Linked DNA regions of Homo sapiens. The protein of the gene in region 1 purifies or fractionates together with the protein of each later gene. This does not show direct contact. Each region holds a gene or a part of one and is shown in the gene's direction. Other genes may lie near its edges.

Region 1 (3,500 bases):
TGGTATATAACAGTAGTCCTAACTACATGGGAGGCTGAGGCAGGATGGTTGCTTGAGCCCAGGAGTTTGAGGCTGTGGTGAGCAATGACAGCACTACTGCAGTCCTGCTCGAGCTACACAGTGAGGCCCTGTCTCTAATGATAATAATGATAATAATAACAAAAGATTTCATTTTATTTCTCCAGTTTTCTAGTTGTGTAAAATGGGAGGATAAATCTGGTTTGCTTACTTCTTTGTGGATAAAAGCCATGTATACTTCCTGCTTTATACAAAGCCTTCTCCTATGGCTAAGATTTTTCTTTTACCATTCCCGTAGTCCCTATCTTTTTTTTTTTTTAATCCTGAATAACTTCTCTGTATGTTCAGGTCTCAGCTTAAAATTTACTTCTCTGGAAAACCTTCCCAAATCCTAAAACATATGGTAGGTGCTTTTTAAATATGCTTTTATAGCTCTGTATGCTTCTCCATGTTTTTATTGCCCTTAGATTTTAAGGTTTTTCAGGACAGGGACAGTGAATTTTTTTTGTTCATGGCTGTATCCTTTGGGGCTATCAGAAACTAAAGTCTGGCAAAGACTTGGTATCCAGAGGTCTCCTGAATGAGTAAGTGTTTAGAATATCAGTAATAGGAGGCATGTGTTACCTATACACTTTCTGAGCATAGATGAAATTTTTGTTTGTTATAATTCTTTTCAAATTCATTGAAAGTAACCATTCTGTTTTGTTCTTATTGAAATTTAAAAGATGACAGTAGTGCATTTTGATCTTGGTGGCAGTACTCAGTCTTCCAGAAGGTTTGCATTACTCTTGTGCTCAAGTATTCTGCATATTACAGAACCCATCTGAATGTTCACAATTCAGAAAAGCTTTCAGTTGTGTTTTCAAAACTGGTTTGTTCTATAGGCTTCCTTTAGACATTGAGGTGCTTAAAGGAAGTTTCTGATAAAATTCTAGTGATTCAAAAGAGAAGCATAGTATTTAATGTTTCTGTTAACAAAATTATTCTCAAATTTGTAAAAGAATGACCTTTTAATTAGAGTTCTTTAGGCAGTTTTTCTTTTCGTTGTTATTGTCAGAGTTTTAAAACTTGCTTTGGAAATTTTCTAACACATATATTTACCTTTCCTTCAAAGATTGAAGAATGAAAAGGCCTTGCGTCTCAACCTTGTTGGTAAGTGGGTTTACTTATTTGAAACTCTGGCTAGAGTATAGGGCATTTCTGCCCTATACTTGTTTTTCTTTTTACTCTTTTAGTGAAATACTGTTTTTATCAAAGTGAATTTGATCAGACTTGATCTAAACAAAGCAAATCAATCATTAAACTTTTGGAATAAACAGTGTTAATGATTTCTAGCTCAGTTTTCCAGAAACTGTTAGTTTATATTTATCTACCTACCTACCTGTCTACACATAACATTCATATCCATCTGTCCATCTATCTGATGTTTAACTCTACCTCCCTAACCATTAGAATTATGAAGGATTATGGCCTAGGTAGAAACCACAATTCATATTTATTTAATGATGTGGACATACACATCTTCAGTTTGTATCTCAGTGTCATGTCACTGTTTTTTTGGTCAGATTTATTGCTAATAATTTTTTACTCACAAATCTGAGATTTAAATACTGACTGTTAGGCTCTTTTATTAAAATTAAAGGTATTTGAACTCCCATCAATGCTTCATCAGGTAATAGAATAGTATTTTTAAATGGGATCTCATTGTACAGGGCCGGGTGATTTTTTTTGATCTGTAATCTTGAGAAATCTAACTGAAAGTGACCCTGACGGTCAGGTTTACTCACAAGGGTGAATTTTGTTGGCTCTTTGGTAATATATATCAATTACTCTACACAGTACCTGGCAGCTCTTATATGCTTAATGTATTTGCTAACTTTGGGGCCCTGGACAGGTCATTTAACATCTCTCATCTACAAATGGGGGTAATAATAGTACTAATTCTCATGGGATTATAAAGCTATTTACATAGTGCCTACAGCTTATTAAATACTCAGCAAATATCATTCTCATCATTAATGGAGTTTTCATTTTATTATTTTTGACAAGCTGTCCTTTGCTTTTAAATACTTAGAAGTTCAAGCTCGACTAAATAATCATTTTCCTTTTTTGCATCCATATTGGATAAGAAATATATACAGAAGCGCATCCCTCCCACTCCTCTTTCTTCTCTAAATTAAAATCTGACAGTTTAATTTGTGACAGACTGGTTTAATTAGCTTTGAGCCCACACAAGGCTTTATGTTTAACATTGACATAAATTTTGGTTCTGTTTTAAACACGTTAATGTTGAAAATGATAATGAATATTTACTTGCTTAAATGATGACTTGTGGGGTAAACTGTCTTGGTACTTGTTGTTTATAGGTGAAAAACTGCAATGGTTTCAAAATCATCTTGATCCCCAAAAAAAGAGATATTCAAAGAAAGATGCTTGTGAACTAATTGAAAGGTAAACACTGGGCATATTATGAGCAAAGGGTCAGAAAAGGGAATTGTCCAGCCTGGTTCTTTAAGACACAGAGCTCTGTTACGGATTTGCAGAAGAGCAAATGGGCTTTGTTATCAGGAAGACTATTTCCTGGCTTAGTCACTATAGGAGGTTTGTAACCTATTTGGGTCTCAGAGTGGTAGTTAGGCCACTTTCTTGGGATCAGGATGGGCTTCCTGGAGAAGTGTCATCTAAACTGGCAGCTGAAAGGTGGGGGTTAGCAGATCGAGGCAAGGTAGTTTGAAAAACCCCTAGCAAGAAAGAAGAATATTTAAAAATGCCCAGAAGTGAGAATGAAGATAACGTATTTAGTGATCTGCCAGACATTTAATATGACTAAAATAAGTTGAAGGAGGGAACTGTGGCAGGTACAATAAGTGATAGCTAGCTCATGAAAGACCTCAGATGTCAGTCTAAAAGTTGGGACCTTATCCAAGGACATTAGGAACCACAGGAGGCTTTTACAGCAAGCAACTGAAATGATCATACTTAACATTAGAAGGGACACATTGAGAATGAAGAAAACAGACTGAGAGGTTCATGACTCTGGTCAGGAAACCGTTGAAAGGTTGCTGTAACAATCCAGGCCAGAAATGATGGTGGCCTCAGCTTGGCTCATAGCCTGATAAAGAAGTGAAAGATTCCAAAGAAATTAAGAAGGTAGAAGTCTCAGTGTTCAGTGAAAACTTAGGTGTGGAATAAAAGGGATAGAGAGCAGTCAAGGAAGCCATCAGATTCCTCGTCTGGACAACTGTTTCCTGAGATAGGGAACCCAGGAGATGGAGGGGGTTTGGTGGGGGGTAGGTGGGGACAGGGTGATGACAAGTTCAGTTTTGATGTGCTAACGGTGAAGCCACTAGGGGACATCCAGATTGAGATGGTGGTTGAATGTGAGGGTCTGCAGTTTGATAGAAGGCTGCGATTTGGTCACTGAAGTTAAAGAAATGGTCGAGTTATCCAGGGAATGGGTAAAAGAGGTTTGAGGACCTGAG
Region 2 (4,150 bases), on another chromosome or scaffold:
TACTCATATATTAGCTGTAGGCATGACCGTGCTGCTGCACCATCGAGAGACACACACACACATAATAAAAAACCAAATATATTTGGGATAGAAATATCATATTACATTATATAATGCATTATACTTTACAAAACATTTTCCTATTCATTAACTGATTTGCAAATAATATTTAATTTTGTGCTGCTTTTCAAAAGATCTGGAAGTGCTTTCCAAAAAGCACTCCATTCATTGCTTCATAGGCTTCATTCAGTGGTCTGTTGGTTTTTTCTTTTTTTTTTTTTTTCCCTCCCAGCAAGGTTAGTTCCATTATTCCCTCTCCTTCCCTATTCAAGCAATATTAAAGGCTTCTCTTTTTCTACCAGGGTGTTAAGTTGAGCCTCTTGGCTGTGAATATTGGCAGAATGGTAGGACGCAGAAGCTGTGATTTCTCGAGTTAAATAATGACATCGTGCCTGGAGGTCAGTTCAAAGACCACGTCGTTTTGGCACGATATTTATCTGTGACCTCATTTTCTTCTTAATCTATAAAACAGAGGCGTTAATGACAATTTACTTCATAAATCGATTATCAGAATAGGACTTAAAATTCCTTAGGAGGTCAAGCACGGGCTTTAGAAAGTGCAACATGTGAACATCAGCCTATTAAAAATTGTTTTGATCTAGAAAAGACAACCTCAAACTTCTCTTGCCAATTCAAATTCCAGCTTCTTCCTACCCTTCTTTTCTAAATCTTTGCTTTCTCTTTGGCTGAAATTAGAAGCAGGAAGGGAGCAGGGAAAGGAAACCTGGGACTGGAAAAGGGCAGGGAAGCCCAACAGACCGGTTAAGCACGTCTGAGATTCTCTAGTCGGCTTCAACCCAGGGGCTAAGAGGCAGAGTCAGCGTTTCCAGCAGAAACTAGCATATAGCTCAGGCTCAATACCACGTCGAGTCAGGAGCCATCGCCGGAAGGGTCACACCGACACATTTTACAAAACAGCCTAAGGCGTCCCCTCCTCCCGCCTGGGTCAGGGAGGGACACCCCCAGGGGTCCTCGCCCGCCTCCCACTAGCGGGCACGCGGTCGTCGCGCGGGCGCGGCCCTCTGACGGAGCCCAGGCGTGCACTCCGCAGCCTCGGCGTCCCCCAGCTAGCCGGAAGAAGCTGCGGCGACAGCGTCCTGCCGCCTGTCTGTCACGCAGCCGCCCACGTTGCCACCGCTTCCGATTGGTCGCTGGCCTGGACCGGCCCCCTTCAGCCCCGCCTCCCGCGAATGGACAGGCGAGGGGCGGGCCCGCCACCGCCCCGCCCCCCGGCGGCCGCGGGCGGGCCCGCCCATCTGTCAGTTACGGGGGCTGCCCGGCGGGCGGGCTGGAGGCGCTCGCAGGCTGCCTAGTCGTTCGCTCGCTCTCTCTCGCGTGCTCCCTCTCGCCGCCTGTGGGGAAGTCGGGGCCGCCCGAGCGGCCGTCGCCACCGCCTCGCCCCGACCTCCTTCCCGGTCCCCTCCCGGCCCAGTCCCTCCCGCCCGCGCACCCCGAGTAGTGAGTGGCCCCGCGCAGGGTCTGGAGAGTCACCGCGGCGGCGCCGGGTGGTGGTTAAACCATGTTAAGGAGGATTTTACAGAGGGTAAGAGAGTGAAACCGTCTTTCTGGCAGCACGTGAGCGGGACAGCCGGAGCTCGGGGCCGCGGCGCGGGCGCCCCTCCTCAGCGCGGGCTCCTTCCTTCCCTAGGCCCCACAGCCCGGCAGGCGCTTAGGCCTCGGTCGCCCGGCCCGGGGGCGGGGAGGGCGGGTGGGGCCGGCGCGGCGGGGCGGCAGGCAGAGCCCTGGTGGCCCCGCGCGTCCAGGCCTGGCGCCCGCTCCGGCGCGGGGCTCCGTGTGTGCGAGCGGGCTGCGAGCTGGAGGGTGTGGTGCCGGCGCGTTCCTCCCGGGAACCCTGAGTGGGAGTGAAAATGGAGAGTTGGTGCCCGTGGGACGGGCCAGCCGCCGCCTGCCGGGCTGGAGAACGCCCCATGGGAGATTCGGGCGGCTTGCTTCGCCTTTCCCCACCCGCCGCACTCCCCGTGCCCCCCAATTTGACACGATGCGCACCTGCCACACACGGCCCTGCTTTCTCCTTTGGACCACAGTGGAGGGTGGTGTGGTGAGCCCCGGCCTAGCCTGGGCCCAGGCGTGGGACTGACACTGGCACAGTCAGCCGAGAAGGAAGATGTTACTCACTGTTGGAAACTTTTTTTTTAATTAAAAATATGTTTTCTGTGCAAGCCCCACTACCTTATTTTAGCTATCCAAGAATAAATCCGCAGTAAGCTTGATCAAGTGGTATATACACTTAGTTTCTGCCTGTGCTGTCTCTGAAATCTGGAAAACCTTGAGGATAGAAAGATTAGAGCATTAGAAAACTGTAGGTGTATCATTTAAGAATCAGTTACTAGAATAACATAATTCACATCTCTTTTCCTGTAAGAGTTATTGTACCTGTCAACTTAAATTTGTTTTTTTTTTTTGGTATAGCTTTTTTCTTTTCTTTTTGAGGCTGATAGGGTGTAACAAAATGTAAATGATTGAAAAGTAGGTGCCGAGCCTATTAGTTCTTTACCGAGGGAGTAGGATAACTAGTTCAAAGGACAAAAGAAATTAGTGAATTTGTAGGATTCAGCCGAGGAATGTGCGGAAGAGAGTTGAGTCATCCAGTAGATAGGAAGGGAGTGCTCTTGCTTCTGCCTAGCTTTCTCCTGAAAGAATGAAGTCATGTGAAACTTGGTCAGTTATTAGAGGGAGAAATAGTTAACTTCTTTATCTGACAACCTGTGTTGACATTTAATTGTATTTTGCAGTGTTTTGTGAATTTTGAAATCCCGGTAAGCGATGATTTTGGCAGTAACAAGGGCATGTCCTTTACTTTCCCCATCACTTCCTTAGTTCAGCAGTAAAGACATCTGTGCATGATTTACTTTCAGGCTTTAGGAGATTTTTCTTTTATCAGACCTGGAGGAACTGATTACCTCATGTTTCAGATTGTGTTTCTGTCATAGTTCTGCAAGTGAAAATTAGTTTGCCTGTGGTTTGCTTTGAAGTTTACAAATAAAAGTGTTTACTGGTTTAAGGGTAGCTCAGCTGTAGTTATAGATTGGTTTTCAGAAATATGGGATGCTTTCTAGTAATCTTGGTTTAAAGTTAAACATCGAGATTATATGAAGATCATTTTTAATGTTGGTGCATACCTATCAACTGTTAAAGAAGCTTCTGTTGAAACTACAAAAGTGAAATTGATTGTGGTTATTGCAGAGATGTGATATTGAATCATCACTTCTGAATAAGTCAGTTGACAACTGAGTTTCTTAACGTCGGCGCTATTGGCATTTGTGACTGGATAATTCTGCGTTGTGGGAGGCTGCCCTGTGCCTTGTAAGATGTTAGCAGCATCCCTGGCATCTACCCCCACTAGATGCCAGTAGCATTCCCCTATATCCCTTCCCCCTTGTGACAACCAAAAATAGCTCCAGATTTTACCAAATGTCCCCTAGGGGCAAAATTGCCTCTGGTTGAGAATCACTGTGTTAAATGCATTAACTCTTTAGTAGGAAAGTTTGAAGTGTTTCTCACAGTTAAGTACTTAATTTTCTTTTATTCAGTGTATTTATATTGAGTTTCAGTAAATGCCAGGCTTCATGCTAAGGGGTAGGAAACAGTTGATTAAGCTGTGGGTCCTCCCTTTAGAACTCACAGGCTGTTTGGGAGGTGAACATTTAAAAGTAATGACAGTGCTATGTAATAGAATAATGAAGAGGACAGAGGACCCAGGAGGCACTCTGTGGGAGGTGAGGGCAATTAGGAAAAGCTTCAGGGACGGGGGCATATTCACAGCTCAGAAGAGGGAAGGGCATGTCAGGCAGAGGGAACAGCAAATGCAAAGAGATGGAGTCATAAAAGGCGCAGGTAGTACTGTGAGGAGTGTGAACAATGAAGCTTAGGAAGTGAGATGGTCTGTAGCAATTAGTAAGAGATGAAGCTACCGTGGTGGCTAGAGACCAAATTGTGAGAGGACGTAAGAGTCCCTTTGAAGGAGTTCAGCTTTTATCTTGTAGTTGGGTCAGTGTTAATGCTGAGTATTTAATAGGGACATTTTGATAAATGTCTTAAATCTGGTGATTTACTAGTTTAGAAGGTAGAA
Region 3 (3,500 bases), on another chromosome or scaffold:
AGGGATTGAGAGGGTCAGCTGTGGGAAATTGGTGTCAGCTGAGTAATTGAAGCGGTTGTGATATAGAGGAAGGGGGGTGCTAAAAATGGGCTGTGTGAAGTGCCAGGCTGCAGAACATCCTGGGAAGCTTTTAAATATCTTTGGTAATAGGGGAGTCTGGGTAAGAAGTGAGAAACTGGGATGCTAATGAGGAAAGAAGAAAAAGGAGCCCTGGGTGTTTGGGTTTCGGAAGGAGAGAGGGAACAGAAAAATAAAAAGACTAGGGTGGCTAGATAGCTGGATCTGTTAGTATGCATCAGTAGTCCAAGCTACTCAGCAGGCTGAAGCAGAAGGATCACTTGAGCCCAAGTTCAAGACCAGCCTGGGCAACATAGCAAGACGTGGTCTCAAAGAAGACCAGGATAATGAGTTTGTCACCACCCAGAGAGATCAACCCCAAAGCCTGGGTCGTTGCATCCTGCAAGTAGCGACAGTTGATTTGTTGTAAAAGAGATGATAGAAAGCATAGTAACTGATTCCCCTGGCCCTGCTGGGTCTTGCCAATTGACAGGATCGTGGGGGTCCTCCCTGCAAGCCCCCAGCACCTGAAGATGAGGATGAGGCATGGCGGCAGCGACGAAAGCAGTCGTCATCTGAGATTTCCCTGGCAGTGGAGCGGGCCCGGCGACGGCGAGAAGAAGAGGAGCGGCGCATGCAAGAAGAGCGCCGGGCAGCCTGTGCTGAGAAGCTCAAGCGACTCGATGAAAAGTTTGGGGCACCTGACAAGCGGCTCAAAGCAGAGCCTGCTGCCCCACCTGCTGCCCCTTCTACCCCAGCTCCACCACCTGCAGTCCCTAAAGAACTCCCTGCACCTCCAGCTCCACCTCCAGCATCAGCCCCAACACCAGAGACAGAACCTGAAGAGCCAGCACAGGCCCCTCCTGCCCAATCTACTCCTACTCCAGGTGTGGCTGCGGCTCCCACTCTGGTGAGTGGTGGTGGCAGTACCAGTAGCACCAGCAGTGGCAGCTTCGAAGCCAGCCCAGGTATGGAGATGGGGATAGGTACTACCAGATGTCAGATCACTGCTTCAAGGTGCTTAAAGGTGCAGGGTGGTAAGGCTGGGGATAAATGAAGTAGAAGGCAGTTGTTTTGGTTTATTGGACTATCAGTGATAGTGTTCTATCATTTGTATATCTGAAGGAGGGAAGGTTTTGTCTGGAATCTTAGGTTGTAGTCTAATACCATTTCTTGGCAGAGTACTGTAGCTCACGCCTATAATCCCAACACTTAGGGAGGCTTGGGGTGGAGGATCGCTTGAGCCTAGGGAGTTTGAGACCAGCCTGGGCAACAAAGCAAGACCCTGTCGGCCAGGCATGGTGGCTCACACTTGTAATCCCAGCACTCTGGGAGGCCGAGGCGGGCAGAACATGAGGTCAGGAGTTCAAGATCAGCCTGGCCAACATAGTGAAACCCGTCTCTACTAAAAATACAAAAATTAGCCAAGTGTGGTGGCATGTGCTTGTAGTCCCAGCTGCTTGGGAGGCTGAGGTAGTAGAATCGCTTTAACCCGGGAGGCAGAGATTTCTGTGAGCCAAGACCATGCCATTGCACTCCAGCCTGGGTGACAGAGCAAGACTCTGTCTCAAAAAAAAATCCTGTCTCACAAGAAATACATAAATAAAAATGAAAACTATTTCCTATAGGCCAAGACTGAAGAAAGTACTGTTGTTCTAATGGTTTCATAGAAAGTTAATGCCACCACCATAGGCTCATGAGAGGCCATGAAGTGCTTTAATGGGTCTTAAATGGGAGGGGCTTCAATAGAATAGATGTTGAATAGAATATTTTAGTCTTAAGGGAGCTAGAGATGAGACGTGAGATTCCTGGGGTGTTCATGGAGTGTCTATTGTTGGACTAGATCACTCTGTTGTGTTTTTTCCGATGCAGTGGAACCACAACTGCCCTCAAAAGAGGGTCCTGAACCACCAGAAGAGGTTCCTCCTCCTACCACACCCCCAGTTCCAAAGGTGGAACCCAAGGGTGATGGGATTGGTCCCACCCGCCAGCCCCCTAGTCAGGGCTTGGGCTACCCCAAATATCAGAAGTCGTTGCCTCCTCGTTTCCAGCGGCAGCAGCAGGTGAAATCAAGTTGTTTACCCTCTAAGGGCTGCTTTTCTTCCTGGCTTCGGTCCCTAATTCTCTTCATAAGTTACCTTCTGGGTCCCTTTGCTTCTTTGTCCAGTTGTCTCCATTGTCACGCCAATTTCCCCTAGTCCAAGTTTTTTCTTTGCTGATTCCTTTGTCCATGTGTGCTTTGAGCCTCTCTCATCTTGTCTTTCCTCCTTTCCTAGGAGCAGCTCCTGAAGCAGCAGCAGCAGCACCAGTGGCAGCAGCATCAACAGGGCTCTGCCCCTCCTACCCCAGTGCCCCCATCACCACCACAGCCTGTGACCCTGGGGGCTGTGCCAGCTCCACAGGCTCCACCCCCGCCCCCCAAGGCCCTGTACCCAGGTGCTCTGGGCCGGCCCCCACCCATGCCCCCAATGAACTTTGATCCCCGATGGATGATGATTCCTCCTTATGTGGACCCCCGGCTCCTCCAGGGTCGTCCCCCTCTAGACTTCTACCCTCCTGGTGTGCATCCCTCTGGTAAGGGGGCATGGGAGGAGTGAGAAACAGGAAAGTCCCCTCAGTCTTAGGCATTGGATATTAGGGTCTTACTGTGACTCTGGTACGATAGGTTTTGCCCATCATAGTGATGAGGGAAGGGCATATGCTTGGCACTGCTGAGATAGCTCTGTTGCAAAAATGGGCTTAGTTAAGAAATAAGCAGTGGTTGGCCAGGCATTGTGGCTCACGCCTGTAATCCCAGCACTTAGGGAGGCCGAGGTGGGCAGATCAACTGAGTTCAGGAGTTCGAGACCACCATGGCTAACGTGGTAAAACCCCATTTCTACTAAAAATACAAAAAAGTAGCCGGCGTGGTGGCGCTCGCCTGTAGTCCCAGCTACTCGGGAGACTGAGGCAGGAGAAACGCTTGAACCCAGGAGGTGGAGGTTGTAGTGAGCCGAGATTGTGCCATCGCACTCCAGCTTAGGCAACGAGCGAAACTCCGTCTCAAAAATGAATGAATGAATAGCACAACTCCATCTCAAAAATGAATGAATGAATGAAAGAAGCAGTGGTCCTTCATTTGCCAGGATTTATTTGGGGTGGGTTGATTCTCTTGTAGGGAATCTGAGTGGATAACCTTGTTATATAAGAGCAGGCAAGGCCCGGACCTACTGGGAACAAGAGATGGAAGAGCTGACTTGACCGCGAGGGGAGATGCTTTTTGGGCTGGAGGGCTTGTGACATGAATAGGATTATTTTTCTTTTTCTTTGGTTTCTTCAGGCCTAGTTCCCCGAGAGCGTTCAGACAGTGGGGGCTCAAGCTCAGAGCCATTTGACCGTCATGCACCTGCTATGTTACGGGAACGGGGCACTCCACCGGTGGATCCAAAGTTGGCCTGGGTAGG
Region 4 (3,500 bases), on another chromosome or scaffold:
TATTACAATGGCCTGGAAGCCTCCTTGGTCTCCCCTTCCCCCACATCCACTACCTCTCTGGTCACCTCTTCTCCCTCCGTGCTTACTCTACTTTAGCCATAAGGGCTCCTGACTGTTCCTTGAACTTGAGAGCCTTTGTACCTGCTGTTCATTCTACAGTCTTCATTTATATATCAATCATATGGTTACTTTCTTCAGGCCTTTACTCATTTTTATTATTTTTGGAGACAAGGTCTCACTCTGTGGTCAAGGCTGGGGTGCAGTGATCATAGCTCATTGCAGCCTCAAAATCCTGGGCTCAACCGATTCTTTTGCCTCAGCCTTCTGAGTAACTAGGACTATAGGCATATACGACCATGCCTGGCTAATATTTTTTATTTTTTGTGGATATGGGGTCTTGCTGTTACCCAGGCTGGTCTCAAACTCCTGGCCTCAAGCAGTCTTCTCACCTTGGCCTCCCAAAGTTATGGGATTACAGGTGTGAGCCACCATGCCTAACCATATCACTTTTTCAGACCACCCTAATTTAAACTGTAATTTGACCCTGCCAGCCCACCCACATTCAGCACTCATCTCTTCTCTGCTTTTTTTACATAGCCTCTTTAATTCAACATATCACACTTGTGTGATTTTCTTCTAACCTAAATATAAGTTCCAGTGAGAACAGTTTTATGTATTTTGTTCCTGCTGTATCCCTAACACCTAGAACTTAATATATGCTCAAGAAATATTTGTCAAATGAATTATTCTCACCAGGCAAGAGAAGTTGACAATACTGATGACCAATTCTCTTGACCCCTTCTAAGCTGGGCCACTAGACCACCCAGTATATGCGCTAAGCGTTCCCACTCCTCTGTGGGAGTACTGTGGAGTTTGGTGAGGTATAATAACATTTATATAATTATAACCCAGCACTGGACCCTGGATTTGAAAGAGTTTGGAGCTTGCTACAACGGATTTGGGTGGGAACTTTTTAGATATGTTTGATTACTAAGACTTCACATTACATTAAACAGTTAAAATGTAATTTTGTACTTTATAGCATAAATCACCTGTTTTGGATACAAAGCCCAAGGAGACAGGTGGAATCCTGGGGGAAGGCACACCGAAAGAAAGCAGTACTGAAAGCAGCCAGTCGGCCAAGCCTGTCTCTGGCCAAGACACATCAGGGAATACAGAAGGTTCACCCGCAGCGGAAAAGGCCCAGCTCAAGTCTGAAGCCGCAGGCAGCCCAGACCAAGGCAGCACATACAGCCCCGCAAGAGGTGTGGCTGGACCACGTGGACAGGATCCGGTCAGCAGCCCCTGTGGCTAGAGGAACACCAGCACAAACGACAGCCTCAAGTCTCCTTCGAGCTTTGTAAAGTATACTCTTCACTCTCTTTCTCTTCTCTGCAAGAATTCTGATTACTACAAAGGTGCCAACTTCAACATTCACATTTCAACTTCAACATTCACATTTTTACTGACAATTAGAATTAACAAACACGTTATATATGTAAAAGCTTTTCATTTCATCTTCTCTTTGATATTTACATCCCATAAAGTAAGAAGTGTTTATTTTAAGATGAACAGATGACAGGCATCACTGATTCTGGATAGTTAAGGAGGCCAGTTTGAATTGGGGACATTGAAAAAGAAATTTTATTGTTACAGGCACTTACGGGAACCCACTAACCAATTTACATTGCCTAGTGAATCCACTAGAGTTAAGGCCACCCACTTGATGCCTCCAGCATCTTCATGCAGCCATGGAGTATCGTTACCAGGATCAGTCTGACTGACACCTCAGCTTATCTCTACGCAGGCTGCCCACAGGTCACTGTGGCTGTAGTTTCATCTTTTCCACAGCTATTACTACGCCTGCATCCTTATTGTTCCTTTTACTTTGTTTACTTAGAGAAAACTGAAGACTGCCAGGGCAATTTAGATAACATAGCTTGTTATATTGGTAATCTGTTTTACAGAGTCAGTCGACTGAAAATGACTTTATTCTTTTCCCCCACCAATTGAAGTGCATGGGCTTTTTATAAAACCTATTTTTTGTGTTACTCAGAATCCTAGCAGTGGAGACTATTAGATATTACCATATCTTAATTCATATTATAGCAAATCATATTGTCTTGTCCATAGGAAGTTTGCATTTTTAGAGATCTATACATAGAGAATACCATGATGAGGAAGAAGAGAGTTGGGTGTCTTCCTTAACTGCAGACAGGACATCAGTCAGCACTTTACATTAGTCTTTCTGATTATCAAAAGCATTCCTCATTTTAAACTTTTTAAAAAGCAATGCATAAATTTTGTACCTGTCCTTAGCAGACTTCACAGACATCAGGTGTCCTTTGTTTTAACCATATTCACACTACAAGTTATGTTCAACTGCTTACTAAAAGTGATACCAGTCAGGAATAAAGTCTTTAAATTTTCATGCAGATATTTGTATCCCAAGCACTTGCTTTTTTATTTTAATATGAAATGCAGAATACACATTTTTGGATCCAGGAAGTGTTACTTACGTGCCTGTAACAATGTAATTTTAGGCCAGGTGCAGTGGCTCATGCCTACAGTCCTAGCACTTTGGAAGGTTGAGGGAGGATGATCGCTTAAGTTCAGTTGTTGAAATGCAGAATACACATTTTTGGATCCAGGAAGTGTTACTTACGTGCCTGTAACAATGTAATTTTAGGCCAGGTGCAGTGGCTCATGCCTACAGTCCTAGCACTTTGGAAGGTTGAGGGAGGATGATCGCTTAAGTTCAGTTGTTGAAATGCAGAATACACATTTTTGGATCCAGGAAGTGTTACTTACGTGCCTGTAACAATGTAATTTTAGGCCAGGTGCAGTGGCTCATGCCTACAGTCCTAGCACTTTGGAAGGTTGAGGGAGGATGATCGCTTAAGCTCAGTTGTTCAAGGCTATGTACTAAAAATAAAACTAGCCAGGCATGGTGGTACACGCCTGTAGTCCCAGCTACTTGGAGGGCTGAGGCAAGAGGATCGTGAGGTGGCAGTGAGTTATGATCGAGCCACTGTACTCCAGCCTGGGTGACAGAGCAAGACCTTGTCTCAAAATTATACATGTTAATATATTCTAGTTTAATATTGCAAACATCTTTAGAATTTCATCAGAAACGTGATTTTTTCTAAGAAATGCAAAAGGATTTTAGGATTTTTAACACAGAGGACATGTTTAACAAATGAATCCTGACAGACACCTGCAGTTTAGAATAAATTTGTGAACATCCATGCGTATAAAGTGTCCTCTTGGGACAAGACATGTTCACACTGACTTGGGGAATATGCCCCCAAGGTGAGAGCTGTCTTTTGAACTGTGATCTGACTCTGAAAAGTAGTGAATGCCCCAGGTGATAGACTGTAACTGTGAGTGGAATTAATGCTGCTTGCATGCCTTTTAATCCAAAACCAAATTCTTTTAAAAAATTTTTAAATAAAATTTCACCTTTGTATTCTTTCATTACAGATATCCATTTGGGGATG

Evidence for each region.
Region 2: the proteins of TMA16 (region 1) and EEA1 purify together in Homo sapiens (affinity purification with mass spectrometry; one large-scale study listed by BioGRID and IntAct). This does not show direct contact.
Region 3: the proteins of TMA16 (region 1) and PRRC2A purify together in Homo sapiens (affinity purification with mass spectrometry; one large-scale study listed by BioGRID and IntAct). This does not show direct contact.
Region 4: the proteins of TMA16 (region 1) and CLCC1 purify together in Homo sapiens (affinity purification with mass spectrometry; one large-scale study listed by BioGRID and IntAct). This does not show direct contact.

The regions. Positions count from the first base shown.
Region 1 is NC_000004.12:163,511,690-163,515,189, forward strand, and holds part of TMA16 (translation machinery-associated protein 16), read left to right. Parts: intron 1-1,132; coding exon 1,133-1,170; intron 1,171-2,384; coding exon 2,385-2,469; intron 2,470-3,500. UniProt on the Homo sapiens protein: Involved in the biogenesis of the 60S ribosomal subunit in the nucleus.
Region 2 is NC_000012.12:92,926,496-92,930,645, reverse strand, and holds the start of EEA1 (early endosome antigen 1), read left to right. Parts: upstream 1-1,350; 5' UTR 1,351-1,579; coding exon 1,580-1,603; intron 1,604-4,150. UniProt on the Homo sapiens protein: Binds phospholipid vesicles containing phosphatidylinositol 3-phosphate and participates in endosomal trafficking.
Region 3 is NC_000006.12:31,627,215-31,630,714, forward strand, and holds part of PRRC2A (protein PRRC2A), read left to right. Parts: intron 1-550; coding exon 551-1,025; intron 1,026-1,929; coding exon 1,930-2,120; intron 2,121-2,333; coding exon 2,334-2,631; intron 2,632-3,376; coding exon 3,377-3,500. UniProt on the Homo sapiens protein: May play a role in the regulation of pre-mRNA splicing.
Region 4 is NC_000001.11:108,932,485-108,935,984, reverse strand, and holds part of CLCC1 (chloride channel CLIC-like protein 1 isoform 1 precursor), read left to right. Parts: intron 1-1,042; coding exon 1,043-1,315; 3' UTR 1,316-1,360; exon of another isoform or gene 1,361-1,365; intron 1,366-1,439; exon of another isoform or gene 1,440-3,483; 3' UTR 3,484-3,500. UniProt on the Homo sapiens protein: Anion-selective channel with Ca(2+)-dependent and voltage-independent gating. Permeable to small monovalent anions with selectivity for bromide > chloride > nitrate > fluoride.